2 separate regions of the Homo sapiens genome follow, and region 2 is linked to region 1. Evidence: fine-mapped expression QTL. Tissue or cell type: whole blood. Region 1 holds a variant in brackets; the other region holds the start of a gene. All regions are shown on one strand. Distances are from middle to middle.

Region 1 (8,188 bases):
TTTATGATATATAGATAAAATAATAAACCATGGCTTCTAGATGATCATAAGGGACTAACTTTGTGAGAGAGCATTTCCAAAATTTTAAGCATGTTCCAACTTCCCAATTTTGCTAATTATTTTTGGTTTAGCTTTTTCCCCCCAGACAATGCCTCACTCTTGTCACCCAAGCTGGAGTGCTGTGGTGATATCAGCTTACTGTAGCCTCAACCTCCTGGGCTCAAGCTATCCTCCCATCCCAGCCTCACAAGTAGCTGGTACTACAGGTGTACCATGCCAGGCTAATTTTTGTTTTTGTTTCGTAGAGCCAGGGTCTCACTATGTTGCCCAGGCTAGTCTCCATCTCCTAGGCTCAAATAGTCCTCCCACCTCTGCCTTCCAAAGTGCTGAGATTACAAGTGCGAGCCACCGTGTCTGGCCTGGTTTAGCTCTTTAATGCTTATAAATAAGAATATTCCTACATAATAGTCTTAAAAGTCTATGATGTTTGTCAGCTATTCATATGAAATTAATATGCTTTAAGATTCACATAAAAATTAAGAGTAAAAGTAACATACTGTATCTGTAGAATATTAAAAATTAGCATGTTTAATCAATCATTACAACATGAAAGTGACTTGTGGTAACCAAAGGAATCATAAAATCACTGAAAGTGAAAAAGTCAAGTGAATTCAGGGCAAGGTAGATGATAACTAAAAACGTATTTACAAAACTGGAGGAAAAGGGTCTTTTCTGGGTGCTCATCCAGCATACAGAAATTGTCTGGCAAATGTCAGTTTTCTTCTTTACTATTTGTTATATATTCAATAGTTGGCAAAAGGAAACACAGTTATGTAGTTTTGTCTTATTTTACACTATAGACATGTTCCTTAGAAGTATGAGTTGAAATTTTGTAAAATAAGTATCTTAAATGGACTATTGGAATTTGCTTTAATGGTCTTTGTTAGTAAATTATAATCTTATGACTTCTTCATTGTGTAAACCTCAACAATTTTAAATCAATTTGCTTAATTTTGCTTCAACAACAACGAAACAAAACAAAACAAAAAAACCTTTCTAGCTATTATGTAATGGGTCCTATCTCCTTGGCATAAGATTCAGAATAAAAAGTCAGTATGTAATACCTCCCTATTATAGGCCAATTATGAAATAAACTACTAAAATCTATTTATTCTTATGTGTCAGCATGGTGGGATCCAGGACCAGGAGTTCCATTATTCTGCCTTTGGTTGAATGCAGCACCCCAAACTCCTTATCAGAGAGTAAGTATAATTCATTCAAAATGATTCTTTCATATAAACATCCTCATCATGTTATAAAAATTTAAGCATCTCTTGGAGAAACTTATCACTATGCAATTCCCAGGAGAAAATTAAAACTTTTGAAAACAACTGAAAATAGATGATGGTGACCAACAGTGGAGAAAAAGACAAGTCAGACATAGGAGAGAATATAGTGTCTGGGAGAAACCAGCCCACAGCTGTATACCCACAGCTAAAAAATGTGGAATTTCTGATGGCTGGAGCTACAGTAGCTTATTTTCAGACTAAGGCCAATTGTAGTATGCCAACATCCTCATATTCTGCTGAAACACATTTGCCAAAATTGTTCTTTCCTTCATTATATATGTTACTTTTCCTTTTCTCTTCTGTATATCCCACATTTTTAAATATATAATTCACTGTCAGAAGAAGATATAATTTCTTTTGAACACATGTAATATATAAAATCATGCCTTTACATCACAAGAATCTTTAGAAGATGTTCTGACTTAGTCTTTATAAAGGTTTTTATTTTAACTCCTCTAAGGAAAAGAATGCATCAATAACATCATGCAATAATAGATTATTATTAAATGTATTGAGAGTAACCCAAATGTTTATGGTTTTACAATTTGGCATTTTTATTTGAGTAAGCATAAAGAAGGTGCTTATTTCCAAGATTAAATAACTTCATGTAGATTACAAAACAGCCAGAGTATCTTGTAACCATGTAACCATGAGGAATATTAACACTTCTGCCCCTGCAACACCCATACCAGCAATTATTTGTCATGTTCTTGACTTTGAACACTCTTCCACAATTCATTTTGTGTCCCCTGAAGGAGACTGAAAACTAAACTAAAATCATTGGTGCCTGTTTTATACTAGGCATTTTACTAGGCACTTTCATATACATTATCTAACTTAATTCTCACTGCCACCATCCAAAGTGAGTACAAGCGTCTCTAATCGCCAGTGATAATTTCTCTTTGGAGAATGATCCAGATTATAGACATTACATTTAATAGCAGCAGTTTTTCTGCAGATCAAATGATGATGAGGTAATTTGAGCCTACATTGTCCAGTGTGGCAGGCACCAGTCACGTGGCTATTTAAATTTCAATCAATAAAAATGAAAAATTCAGTTTCACAGTCTCACTTGCCACATTTCAAGTGCTCAATAGCCACATGTGGCTAGTGAGTAGTTTTACTAGTGAGCAGTTCTTGCCACTTTTACAACCCAGGAATATCTTGTCTCAAGGACCTGAGAGCAATTTCTTTGAAATATAGTTATCAAAGGATATAGTACTCCTATCTCCTAGTTCCTGTGGGATAGTAGGAGCCTAACTTTAGTGGGCATCTGCTCCAAGTTGCAAAACTACCTTCTAACATAAACATATGAGAAGTTTATTTTTACTTTGGATAAAGCCAATTAGCAAACACAGATGGCCTAAGACTTTCCCCTAATGTCCTCCAGTACTGTCCACCAGTTCAACCGAGCCCTTAAAAAACCCTACCCCCTCTGCCTCAGTGGAGTCAAGTTCAGAGTTTGTTCTGGCCTCTCTCCCCTACTGCAATAGCCTTGAATAGAGTAATGTCATCCTGGCCTATTTTACTTTGCCTGGTACAATTGTTTTTTGTTTGTTTGTTTGTTTGTTTTGTTTTGTTTTGTTGTTTGTTTTTTGAGACGGAGTCTCGCTCTGTTGCCCAGGTTGGGCAACAGATCTCGGCTCACTGCAAGATCTGCCTCCCAGGTTCACGCCATTCTCCTACCTCAGCCTCCCGTGTAGCTGGGACTACAGGTGCCCGCCAGCACGCCCGGCTAATTTTTTGTATTTTTAGTAGACACGGGGTTTCACCGTGTTAGTCAGGATGGTCTTGATCTCCTGACCTCGTGATCCGCCCGCCTCGGCCTCCCAAAGTGCTGGGATTACAGGCGTGAGCCACCATGCCCAGCCACCTGGTACAATTTTTGCTTTAACACCAGTTTTCAGAAAATGAAAATAGTAATTCAAAATAGTGTAAGCCGAGTGCAGTGGCACATGCTGGAGTGCAGTAGTCACAGCTACTTGGGAGGATGAGGTGGGAGGATCACTTGAGCCTAGGAGATCAAATGTAACCTGGGTAACAGAGTTAAACCCCATCTCAAAAAAAAAGTGTAAGTCTTAATTCATACTGAAAATAGTTTTAATGTTTTCTTAAGCTGAATGATCTACATAAGTAATCATATACAGGTAATAATGTGGCAAAGTGAAATGATTTGATTACAGAAATAAATCTAATTCCAGGATTTAAGGATGTAGAGTTGCAATTACATAAGCTATACCTGACACCACTTCAGCATCACACATATTTATCACCCGGTTTAGCTGTTCTGCTGTGAATGCATTATGGAAAAGGTAGCCAAGTTTTTTGGTCTAGGAATACTTTCTTCTGGAACATGGCCTTCCTCTAGCTGAATATAGCAGAAGACCCCAGCTAGGTTCACTGATGGGTCTTTCTATAATAGCAATCTATTTCCATTATGATTCTCAGGCCCAGCCAAGGCCACACACATTCCAAATCTATACTCTCAGGTCTTCCTAGAATTTATATTCTCTGCAAATTCAAGGAATTAATCATAGTGTCTTTCAGCTTTTTCTCAGAATTTTCCCAAAGTTAAATCACTGTTAATAAAACATACGTTCTTCACAGAGAGTAAATCCAACAGTTTGTAGAGAGACAGCTCTTCAGGGTGATTTTCTTCTCTTTCTTAGTGGCATCCCGGGGGATTTACTTCCATTATCATCTGAGCACAAAAGAGGATCAAAAATTTTGGCCACCGTTTAGCTCTATTTCCTGGTTTAACTACTTTTTTTTTTTTTTTTAACCAGACTTAAAAGAGATGGTTCTTTGGGGAGAGGGGATGGTACAAGAAGAATCACAAATTTTCATTAAAATCCCTGATAATAATTGGCTGTATTTATACATTTCTGGTGATTTATAATTTTCAGAAAGCTTTCATGTTAATTCTTTTAATCCTCCCAAAAATCCTATGAGGTTGGTGTTCATATATGCCCTATTTTACCAAAAGAAAACAAAACAAAAAACTAGGAAACTTAGAGACACGGAGTAGCAATCCAAGCTTACAGAACAGTTGTTTGCCTCCACTGTCCCCACTTCTCACTGCCATTCTGATTTCCAGTTCCAACCCATGGAAACTTGTGCTTGGGCTCCTACCACTTGACTAAAACTACTCTCAACAAGGTCTCCAGTAACCTCTTTGTGGGACCCTTTCAGTCCTTATCTACCCAGACTATCATCAGCACTTGACTTTGTGGACCACACCCTTGCTTAGTTTCTGGGACACTACACTCATTT[AT/A]TTTTTTTTTTCTCTTGCTTAATCTGTTTCTCTTTTAAGGACTCCACTTCCTCTATCTCAGAGCTTCCCAACAAACAGGAAACAAAGAGATATTGTTTCACCCATGTGGGACCTGGAAGTACAGAACCTTATAGCTGATTGCTATCATTAGAAGCATTTTTATTTTGTGTTCCTGTGATGGTCATCCAAGAAAAGTGGATCTGAAAGTGTGCCTCCCTCCGTCCCAGCATCATATGGCACTCACTGTTCTATTGAGTAGATCTGGGAGAGGCCAAGTTGGACATCAACTTTGGTAGCCCAAAGAGGAGAGTGCACAGCTCAAGATACAACTGCCTGTGCAGGGGAAGCCAGGTAGGGGTTCTTTCCTATTGGAGCTGCAAGCAGGATAAAATTCTGTCTTCAAATATATTAGTGTTTATTTCTTATGGCACAATGTTTAGAAATAAAGAAATATATAAAATTTGTGCTGACTACAATTTTAGTAGTGTTCTTTCTAGCTATAGTATGACTATCCTAATAATGTGTTTGTTCATCAAGAGAAAATTTGATTGTATTCAAAATCATCATCTTTGCAAGAAATTTACTATTACATTTGTCACTGAAAAAAAGGGATGATAGATTCTTTAGATATAATTCCAACTGTCATAAATTGTTAAGTAGTTATAAAAAATATTCTCACTTTTTAAACTACCTACTCATATGAACATTTCCCACCAATGGTAATGATCACATATAATTAGAAAGAAAGTATACCAATTTCAAACATAAAATCTGATATTAAAAAGTTAGGTTAAATATTATATCAATTCAATATTTAGCACCCCTACTACTTTTTAAAATTTTTCTTATTATAGTTATAGAATATAAAGAAAGTATTAAGAATTGTGTCCCTACCCAAAAAAGATGGGTTAAAATCCTAACTCCCAGTACCTCAAAATAAGACCTCATTTCAAAATAGGTTCTGATATGGTTTGTATGTTTGTCCCATCCAAATCTCATGTTGAAATATGATCCTCAGTGTTAGAGGTGGGGCCTGGTGGGAAGTGTTTGTCTCAAGGGGACAGATCCCTCATGAATGACTTGGTGCCATCCTCGAAATAATGAGTGAGTTCTTGTTCTATACATGCAGGATCTGGTTGTTTAAAAGAATGTGGCACCTCTCCCTCCTCACTCCTTCTCTTGCCATGTGACACTTCCTGCTCCCTTTTGCCTTCCCCAGTCATTGTGAACTTCTTGAGGTCCTCACAAGAAGCAGATGCCCGTGCCACACTTCTTACATAGCTTGCAGAACTGTGAGCTAAATAAACCTCTTTTCTTTACAAATTACCCAGCCTCAGGTATTCCTATATAGCAATGTAAAAACAGCCTAATACAGGGTCATTACAGATGTAATTAGTTAAGATGAAGTCATACTAATGTGGAGTGGACCTCTAATCCAATATGTGTTCTTATAAGAAGATAGCCATGTGAAGACAGAGAGACACACAAGGAGAACACCATGTTAAGATGAAGGCAGATACTGAATTGCTGCAAGTCGAGGAACACCAAAGATTGATGGCAAATCACCAGAAGCAAGGAAGAGGCAAGGAAGGATTGCCATACAGGCTTCAGAAGGAACATGGCTCTGCTGACATCTTGATTTTGGACTTTTAGTCTCCATAAACGTAAGATGATAAATATTTGTTGTTTCAAGCCATCCAGTTTGTGGTACTTTGTTGTAGTAGCCCTAGGAAACTAACACAGAAAGTAAAGAAAAATGTCATGCAGCCTTATATAAATACTCCTAGATGTCTCACAGTTTACCCAGTGTGTCATACAAATGCTATTTTCCATGTCTGCTATGACATGTAAACAGTTGGGAAGCACAGTCCACCACCATTTCTGAAAACACTGGCATTTCCTAGGAGGATTTGTCCTTGATCCTCTTTTCCTCTCATAGTTAACCCATTCTTGCTGGGTAATTTTACCAACTCAGTTTTCACCTGAATGTTAATTATTTCAAATCTGTGTCCCCAAGCCCAGGTGTCTTTAAGCCCAGATGTCTCTCTTGAGTCCCAGGTTCTATACCCAACTATCCATGACACTTGGAGGTCCTACAGTCACTGAGACTGCAAAATCCAATTGGGACAATTAAAAAAACAAAACAAAACTCCAGGTGGCCTAAATTTAGATTATCAAGAGGGGCTTGGAGATGTAGATGTTTGGGTATTGCTTCAGGATATAGCTCTATTATTTTTGTTTGTTTGTTTTAGCCAGAGATCCATCCCTAGGACCTTTCTTGAGTTCATCTCCCATCAAAGTGAAGACAGTGTGAAGAACCATTCCTGGAAAATATCATCATGTTGAGGAATCTCAAATTCTGGCTAAATGTAGTACACAATCTATGAAAATTCATTCACCCTAAGATAGAGCCAAACATGCCACATATAATAGCTACCTAGCTCATGGTGTTAAAGAGAAATTATTCACTGGACATTTGTTGAAAATGACAAGACAGAATTTGTTTGAGCTACTGCAATAGAAGAGAAATACTTCAGTACAGAACTAAACCCAATTTTGCAGAAATAAAAGGTGGGAGGCTTTTTAAACATCTGGGTGTACTAAAGAAAAAGTACTGAAGGACAGGACATTAGTGGGGGTTGGCTCAAAATGATTATTAGTCTGTCTTTGTCTGTCAATTGGAACTTATCAAAGTTAGGCACCTACACTCCCAGGGAGACTGCACAACAGGGCCTTATCTTTCTTGGTGATTACACTTCAAAGGGATGGCTCCCAGGTCCTTGAGAAAGACATTCCTGGAATGTAGAGGATACACCTCAAAGAGAGAAAAGATTTACAATAGCAAGTTTTCTAAAGTAAATGCTCTAAGAAAAGAGAGATCAGGGGCCTATACTCAGGTTTTGGGCTGGAATGAACAGTAAATTCTTTTGGCAGTGTTGAGCTTTCTCAGGCAGGCATTTTAAGGGATCTGGGTTTGTCATCCTGGGAACACAGCCTCGAGCTTACAGAAACTATACTAGTGTTTGCCCATGTCTCTTAGTTGGGAGGGCAGGAGGAGTTGGGAGAAATAGTTTGTGCTTTCAGTCGCTGCTCTTATAGGCCAGGATTGAGGCCTAGTCAAGAAAAGGGCTTAGAGGAGCCTAACCAAAGTTTGGTCAAGAAGAGTCTTTGTCAACGACTGTAGGAATCAATATAAATTTCCTCCCATCACACTAGTGTTCTTAAAGCTGTTAAGTTTTCACTATATTTTAAATATTTTGTGAAAAGCGTGGGTCAGACTAGATGAACTTGAGATGTCTATTAACATCAATGTCCAAGAGGCAGAAATTTAATTCATATTAGTGGGGTGAGAATAGAATGTTTTAGAAAAGCTAATGATGAGCCTTCTGATATCTCTGTCTTTGGTTTGCATCTTTCATTATAAGTAAGCAAGTGGACTCTGTACCCTTCTTAGATATCTTACCTTGAAACATGCTTTTTTCTTGAGGGAAAAACCCAAATCATTGAACAGATATTTATTAAGTACCTACTATAAATTAGGAACTTTTCTAGGCATTGGGGCCAC
Region 2 (8,188 bases), 29 kb before region 1:
TTCTCCCCTACCTGTCCAAAAGTTAGAGGGAAATCAGAGCTGAAAAAGGCAAAATCTCAAATCCATTCCTTTCTTCAATATTTTTTATACTCCATATCACCTGTCTCAAGAGTTACCATATCAAACTCACCTTTCTTATTACAGCACACATTTTGTTATTGTGATATTCTATACTACTACTGTTGTTTCCACTGCAGCAAGGTAACAAACATATACAGAGGTACCTGGCTGTATATGACTTTCACATAAGTGGGATTCTATGTTAAATAATAAATCAGTTTCTCACGTTGCAGAGGCAACTCTAGAGAATGTGGTTGGATGAAATTTTCTGAATAATTCATTCAGGTCTAGTTTACATTGAAGAAAAAGAGGTTTAGGGTACTTTTCCTTCATTGCCATGAATCTTATTTCTCTCTCTTTCTTACAACACACCCAACTAGGTCTTGTCATGCCAGGAAACAAACAGCTACAAAAGCTGATTTTTTAGATGTAAAAGTTAGTAATGATGACCCAAATTAACTTCGATAAAACACTATCTTCTACTGGAACGTAACTCTTAAACATGACTTATACTGAACCAAACTGCCTAAAATATGGAAGAGTGGTGTTGTTTGGAGATTTACTTATGGGTCATGTTATTATTTACTCTTAAGATATAGAAACCATGTAAGCACAATTATGATAGAACTATCAATTAGTGTTTTCTACCATTGCAAAGGGAAATAAACTAATTGAGAATAAAAAATAGGCATGATTATTTTATTATGTGTAGAATTTTAATTTTGAAGGGCAATTTATGAAATATTATTAGTCACATGAAAATTATTGAGAAAAAAATTTAAAACACAACTCATCTATATTAGACCATATCCCTGAAAATAAAAAACATTAAACATTAAATTAGACACATTTATATAAAACCGGCAAAGATAAGCATCTCAAAAATAGTTAGGGCTATGCACAGAAAAATATTAAATCTCATAAACATGAGGCAGATTTACTTCCCCAATTGTTTTGATGAAATCCTACCTTGAATGATGCATATTTTAATACAAACAAATAGTAAGGCTTAGACTCATACATGAATCATAACAAATGAAGATCCTAATTCTCTTAAGTTTTTTGAAAATTTTTGAATTCATACCATATCTACTGTTAACTTTGATTTTACCAAGATGAAGCACCTCCCTTAGGTTATCCAGCAAGTAATTAAAATTTCATGAGATTATCAAGCTTAAACCACATTTCAACTTTTCTGACTACATTTCAGCATACTATATAATGGCATAGGAAGTGAACTAAACTTTAGACTTCAATGTGAATTTATTTTCACAAAATTACTTTAAAGAGGACAATGCCTAAACTATCACTTTAAAAGCTGAGTTCTGTTTAAAGACAAAAATAAAGACATGGCTCATTCATTAAGTAAACATTTATTTAATGTCTACTGAGCAAAATACTGTACTAAATATTGTGACTCCTGCCCTATGACAATCAAAGAAATAAGAAAAAAAAATACAACTTATGGCCGGGTGCAGTAGCTCACGCCTGTAATCCCAACACTTTTGGGAGGCCGAGGCGGGCAGATCACTTAAGGTCAGGAGTTTGAGACCAGCGTGGCCAACATGACCAAACCCTGTCTCTATTAAAATATAGAAATTAGCTGGGCATAGTGGCACATGCCTGTAATCTCAGCTACTCAGGAGGCTGAGGCACAAGAGTCACTTGAACCCAGGAGGTAGAGTTTGCAGTGAACCTAGATCACACCACTGCACTCCAGCCTGGGCAACAGAACAAGGCTCTGTCTCAAAAAAAAAAAAAGGAAAATAAAAAGACAAGTTAGTAAATACAAAATTATATAGTACAACTGAATACATAAAAACAGAGGTGTTAAATAATAAGACTAACATAACTAAGAAATGCTTCCCTAGAAAGATCATTATTAAATCAACTAAGACATTTTCATAGTAGAAATTACACACAAAAAGGAAAGAATTAAGAGATTCAGCAAATATATTTTAAGTGGAAGCCTACATTGGGGAACGAATAAGATAAATTTGGAGAAGACTGTAAACCCAATTGACAGACTGATTTTACATTAAACATAATAGGAAATAATAACATACTATAAATGCTTGGATAATAGAAAAGTGAAGAAAATGTTAATTAATGAAGGTGTCTCTTTCATATATATATGTAGAATGAACTATATCAATGGAAATAAAACCAGCAAAACTGTTGTTGCAGCTACCCAAAGGTAAATGATGAAGTTCTGTGTTAGTGTGGTTGAAGAAGACATGTGACAGGCTGGGTTGTTGAGGGAAGTAAAATCTACTCTTGTCTCTTTGGAGCCAAGGTTATTACAAAATAATAAGAATAAAAATAAGCCAAAACATTCCTGAGCTACTAGCAAAATTAAAGGCCTAGAGGTCTTGAATGTATGACAGATGAAGAAAGTCCCATAGCTGTAGTTTCAATGGTACATAGGAAACTCTGTTACTCCCATAAGGTACCAGATAACCATCCTAGAACTGAGTAAAAGATTATTCCATCGATTGCCTCCAAGTTGGTACACTGGATTGTGGATCCAATTTGACATAATGCAGATAAAAAGTTCAAGTATTACAAATTTGAAAATGTGCTTTTAACATATTAATGTTACATCTTATCTTTGATAGAAGATCTTTGTGATACTATTATTCTGAAGTAGGAATTAATCCTTAATTCCTAGTAACCTTGTGAACAGGAGTCACAAGGATTGTTATATCATAAATTCTTGGCTGGGCGCGGTGGCTCATGCCTGTAATCCCAGCACTTTGGGAGGCTGAGGCGGGTGGATCACGAAGCCAGGAGATCGAGACAATCCTGACTAACACGGTGAAACCCAGTCTGTACTAAAAGTACAAAAAATTTGCCGGGCATGGTGGCGGGCGCTTGTAGTCTCAGCTACTCGGGAGGCTGAGGCAGGAGAATGGCGTGAACCCAGGAGGTGGAGCTTGCAGTGAGCGGAGATCGCGCCACTGCACTCCAACCTGGGCGACAGAGCGCGACTCCGTCTCAAATAATAATAATAATAATAATAAATTCTTGATGTAAGCATAGTAAAGGCAATAATTACTCTTGCTCAGGGATTGCTCATGCCATCTACATACTCTTAATAGACACTCTTGCCCCCAACTTGAGGAAAATCAAACAGGTTATACAACTCATGTGGTCCTTCTTAAGTGTCAACCCACAACTTGGTCATAAATTACAGTAGGCAGGTGACACATACAAGTCACAAATAGTTTTGTCACATCAAATTTTACTTTTGTTCTACTGAAAATAGGTGGCAAACCTGCAGAATAATAAAAGAAAAGAAAAAACAATCAAACTAGCAATTAAATTTATTTTAAAGAAAGAAATAAGTTGGAATTATTTACAATTTAATAATGCTACATGACGGCAGATAGCACACAGTCATAGATTTGTAAAAGGTGCCTGTCACCACACACACAAAAAAAATCACTCACACTGACTATAACTTGTTAAATAAATCATGTCTTTAAGTCATTAATATGATCAACAAATCATCAGGAACACGACAAGGAAAAAGCTGAGCTTCTGTTCTTAATGTGAAATGCAGTCCACCAAAGAGACAACCAAAATAACTAAACAAACCTCTGTGCTGACTGATGGCATTTTCAGACTCCTGAATAAATAGGAAATGTCCAAAGCGCACGCACACACACACACAAAAGGAACAATCCCGAGACAAACCTGGCTGTAAAATAAGTGTGGAAGCAAAATGATAAATTCGGAGGTATTTTTTATTTGAGAGACATCCCGAGTGCTTATATTGCATCACCAGTGAAGGAAAATGAAATGTTACCAGGATCCGAAAAGGAGTCTCTGAACAGGGTGTACACTGAATTCCCCTTTAATAAAAAGAGAGCAGCTCTAAACAAAATTTTTTTTTAACTTCCAGAAAGCCAAATTAAAAACAAAACAAAACAAAACAAAACAAAAGAAAGAAAGAAAAGAAATGGCTTTACCCACAGTCCCATGTCTGGGACAGAGTTCTTCTACCAAGCCATGCAAAGTGTCCAAGACAGAGGCCACCCACCACGCATTCCCAGACTCTTAACCGTGTCACTCCAGAAACCGAGAGGACTTGGATTTCCAGATTGCTAACGTGATCTGAAGGCACTCAGTACACGTTTCTGTCTGGGCAGGACCAGTTGAGCCACTTCTCGCCTTATCAACTTCCAATAATTGCCACACTGTGTGTGCAACCAGTAAGTGAGTGGCACATGGAGTCTGACCTGGCACTCCATTCACACACTTTGTCTGATACTACTTTCATTGTCTGGGCTCTTGTTTTTGGAGAAGAGCTGCCGAAAAGTATCACCTTTTCCTCTATCACTAACCTTTACCTTTACCTCTATCCCTAACATGGGATGCCGAGGTGCAGAGGCACCAGCACTGCCCTGCCATCACTCTAGTGGATACGGACCCGATTAGGCGTCCTTCTTCCTTCTGCCCACACCAAGGCCCCCCAGGCCGCGGCCGCTCACCGGGAACCTTCCCAGGGGAGCGGCGGAGGGGCGAGGCCATGGTGCGGGGACCTGCAAGAGGGCCCTGACCCTGATAGAGAGGGGCCGATGGGCGGCCAGGTGGGCCTGCGGGTTTACCTTGTTGAGGTGAGGGTTCCGTGTCAGCAGGTAGCCGCGCTGATGGGTGTGGCGGCGACGGGGGGCTTCGGGCTCCATGGCTGGCGCCGGGTTCGGCGGCGGGGTCAGGCCGGGGCGGGCCGCACGCGCGGTGCAGGCGGCGGATGCTGCTGGGGTGACGGTGCTGACTGCAGCTGTGGCGGCGGCGGCCGCACTGGGAAAGGCCCAGCGGCTGGGGGCGGGCGTGGGTGGCGAGAGGGGGTGGACGCGTCGGGAGGGGCCCGAGCGAAGCCGGTGTCCCCAGCAGGGCAGCCTGCGAGAAGCGCTGAGTCATGGCAGGAGATCATCCGAGCCGGCGTGTGAGGAGGAGGAGGAAGAGCGAGTCCTGGCAGCGCTGCTGGTGGCGGAGCGGGGGTGGCGGCCGGAGCCCTTGGCTCCATAGGGCCTCTGCCCACCATGGGCTTATGATCACCGCTGTGGTCGCCTCTCTCCATGTGGGCATGCCTAAACGCAGTGCACTGGGTGGCTCTGCTGACCCCAGAGACCCAGGGCGGGGGCAGGGAGCGGGGAGCGTCAGGCCAGGATCCCCCTGCCCGGGAAGGCTGGAGAAAGTGCGAGAAGATGCCAGAAGGTGCGAACCTGAGCGGTTCAGGCAGAGCCGGCGGTCGCTCAGACACCTAGGGGGATTACAGGACGGAAGGACTCGTGAGGGGTCCCCAGAACTGTTGACAGAACACCTCGACAGGCTGAGGAGAATCAGACTCGTCTCTCCTGTCTTGTTAGCGTCTTGGAAGCCCTCTTTCTACAGATCCACAACCTTCGCCGTGCCATCCAGGATGCCGGCCATGCCCGGGGCCCTGAGGCCGGAGGGAACCAACCTTGACCCAGAATGCCGAGGCCCAAGGGAACTGGGAGGAAGCCCAGAGAGGAGAGCTCAGGCGCCACACCTGTCAGTTTCTACAGATTTTCCACCGGAATTGTATTTGAATGTCAATAAGATAAGAGTCAAGGTGTTAGGGTGCAAAGGCCCAATGAACAGTCCTGTTTATCTTGTATATTATTTCTCTGGGAGTTCTAGAAACCTGATGTTCAAGAACCACTGCTCTCTCTGAATAATGATGAGTAAGCAGTCTTTCAGGCCTTCCTCCCAACCTCAGGTGATCCGCCCGCCTCCGCCTTCCAAAGTGCTGGGATTATAGGTGTGAGCCACCGCGCCGGGCCATTTTTTTATTGTTTTATTGATATTTATGCTTGGAGGTTCATGGACTGGAGGAATAGTCAGATCATAGCCAAAAGGAGTGCCTGTCTGATAAAAATAAATTAATAGCAACAGACACTAAAGCCTTCTGTGCCCCAGTTTCCTTTTCAGTTAAATAGGATTGCTAGTTTCTGTCCCATTTGTCTCTGCATACTGATATTACAAAGGATAGTGTTTGAGATTATTTGCTGATTTTATATCTCCATATACTAGACACACATCCAATCACAGTGTTTTCATTTCTAGTTATGTTAACTTTGCCTTATCAGAAAGATTTCTTACAGTAATTGTATTTTGTCCGTATTTACATTTAGAAGCTTCTTTGACCTCGCCTGAATTATCTAGAATTCGTTGTTTTTATAGAGAATATTTTCTAGGCATCACAAAGTTCTTTTTGAAAAAAATCCTTGAAGTTAAATGACACCTTTCATTGTTAATTCTATACTCCATAAATACTCAATCCTACAACATCTAAGAAAAAGGTGTACTTTACACAACTCACTCTCCTGAATTAACTGAGACACATTACAGTTAGGGTGTTTTATGTGAGAGGAAACAGTTTAACAGCTGGCATGGGAGCCAATTCAAGCTGCTTAAGAAGAAACAAAAATGTTAGTACAACAGACCCTTATTATAATAAAGTACTTATTACATGAATTTAGATATACTACCTACCTGTTCCTGTTTCTGAGATTTAATATCTACAGATAGGAAAAGTGTTATAAGTACAGGGAGTAACCCACAAAGAGTATATGGCCTCTCCCTCAAAGGCAACATTACAAGGGGATTACAATATCCTGCCAGTAGTAGGTAAAGTTCACATCTTTCATCTGTATGTTTATTTTAATTATTAAAATAACCGCCGTCATCTTGAATGAAACAGGATAAGGCCTAGCTGAAGAAGCCATTTAGTACATTCATATGTAGTTCCAAGAATACTAGAAAGAACCTATTTTTCTACATAAATGTTAGCTAGAATATCAAAATTTTCAGTCTTTTTTAAATAATAATCTCATAAGGTTAGGTTTTATTTCCAAAAACGTAGGAAAACAGATGCAGAGAAAAAAACTGCTTTAATTTGCCTTGTAACAAACTGTGGTTGCACTGTCACTCTGAAAGCAATTGGTAATGTTAAGAATGGGTATCATTCACAAATTAAGAGACTAAAACATAGATTTCTGTTATACACAGGTGAGAATGCCATCAGTCAAAATCAGATTTTTCTTTCCCAAGTTATAGTTTAGCACACAAAGAGCTTTTACAACATAAAATATGATTGTAATAGATACTCTGATGTAATGTCAGTTGAGATTGCAAGTATAGAAAATTCAGGAAATAACTCTTAGTACATACAGCAATTCTAATATTTTACTTTCATGAGATAAAAAAGATTAATAGAAAAAATACATATCTAGGTGAGGATTTATAATATTAACTAAATGATTCTGTATTTCTTCACACAAAAAGCACACTACTACTATGTCTTCAAAATCTAGTGTGCATTTTATAACACATCTCAATTTAGACACCAAATTTTTATCAGAAATTTGATCTGTATTTCAATTTTATAAAACTTACATTTGCAATAGTAGACTCTCATACCTAACTTGTTGCAAATATACCTTAAAGTTTTCCAATGACTAAATTGAGTATCTGTTTTATATTTAAATTAAAATCAAATACAATTTAAACTGAGTATCTCATTTGCACTGGCCACATTTCAAATGCTTAGTAACATGCCAGTGACCATCGAATTAGAGAGCACAAGTCTAATCCAATGCATTTGGGCCCTTAATTAAATGTTTTAAATAAATAAAGATCAAATATACATACCTGTGTTATTGTAATGTTCATACAGATGTTGTTACATGAATCGCAGAGTAACTCAAGTTATACTACCTTATTAGTTTCACATATATAGCTATTTATAACCGTAAATGCATGCAACATACTGATTTTCTTTACAAAGCACTGATTCTTTTCCTTCTTCTCAGATAGTCAACCCAGTTGTTTCATTCCTCAAACCATTTTGTTAAAAGTTCACATCCCAGTTGATAACATGGCATATGGAATAAAATTCTAAATTAGTAAAACTGCATTTAAATAAACCTTCTGAAATTCAGATGTCCACATAACTATTGTACTTCAAGACAGCAAACTGCTGGAGAAATTTTGCACATACTCTCAACATTGCTGCCATTATTTTCCCCCCAACAGAGTCTCACGCTGTTGCCCAGGCTGGAGTGCAGTGGCGTAATCTTGGCTCACTGCGACCTCC

The links. PIP is the estimated chance that this variant, and not a neighbour inherited with it, causes the effect.
Region 2: it holds the start of ME1, and the variant in region 1 is fine-mapped to the expression of ME1 in whole blood (TOPMed, PIP above 0.99). The same link has a PIP of 0.9 or more in blood mononuclear cells.

The regions. Positions count from the first base shown.
Region 1 is chr6:83,455,222-83,463,409 of GRCh38, forward strand. No RefSeq gene overlaps it. Among named protein-coding and RNA genes, the nearest start is that of ME1, 28 kb to the left of the region's middle. The variant AT/A (reference allele first, on the strand shown) is at 4,623.
Region 2 is chr6:83,426,204-83,434,391 of GRCh38, forward strand. It overlaps ME1 (malic enzyme 1), which reads right to left and starts at 4,848. Exons shown (of 14, transcript NM_002395.6): 1 at 4,674-4,848. The coding sequence starts at 4,751. RefSeq lists enhancers at 4,062-4,331, 4,952-5,121, 5,064-6,263 and a silencer at 4,552-4,741.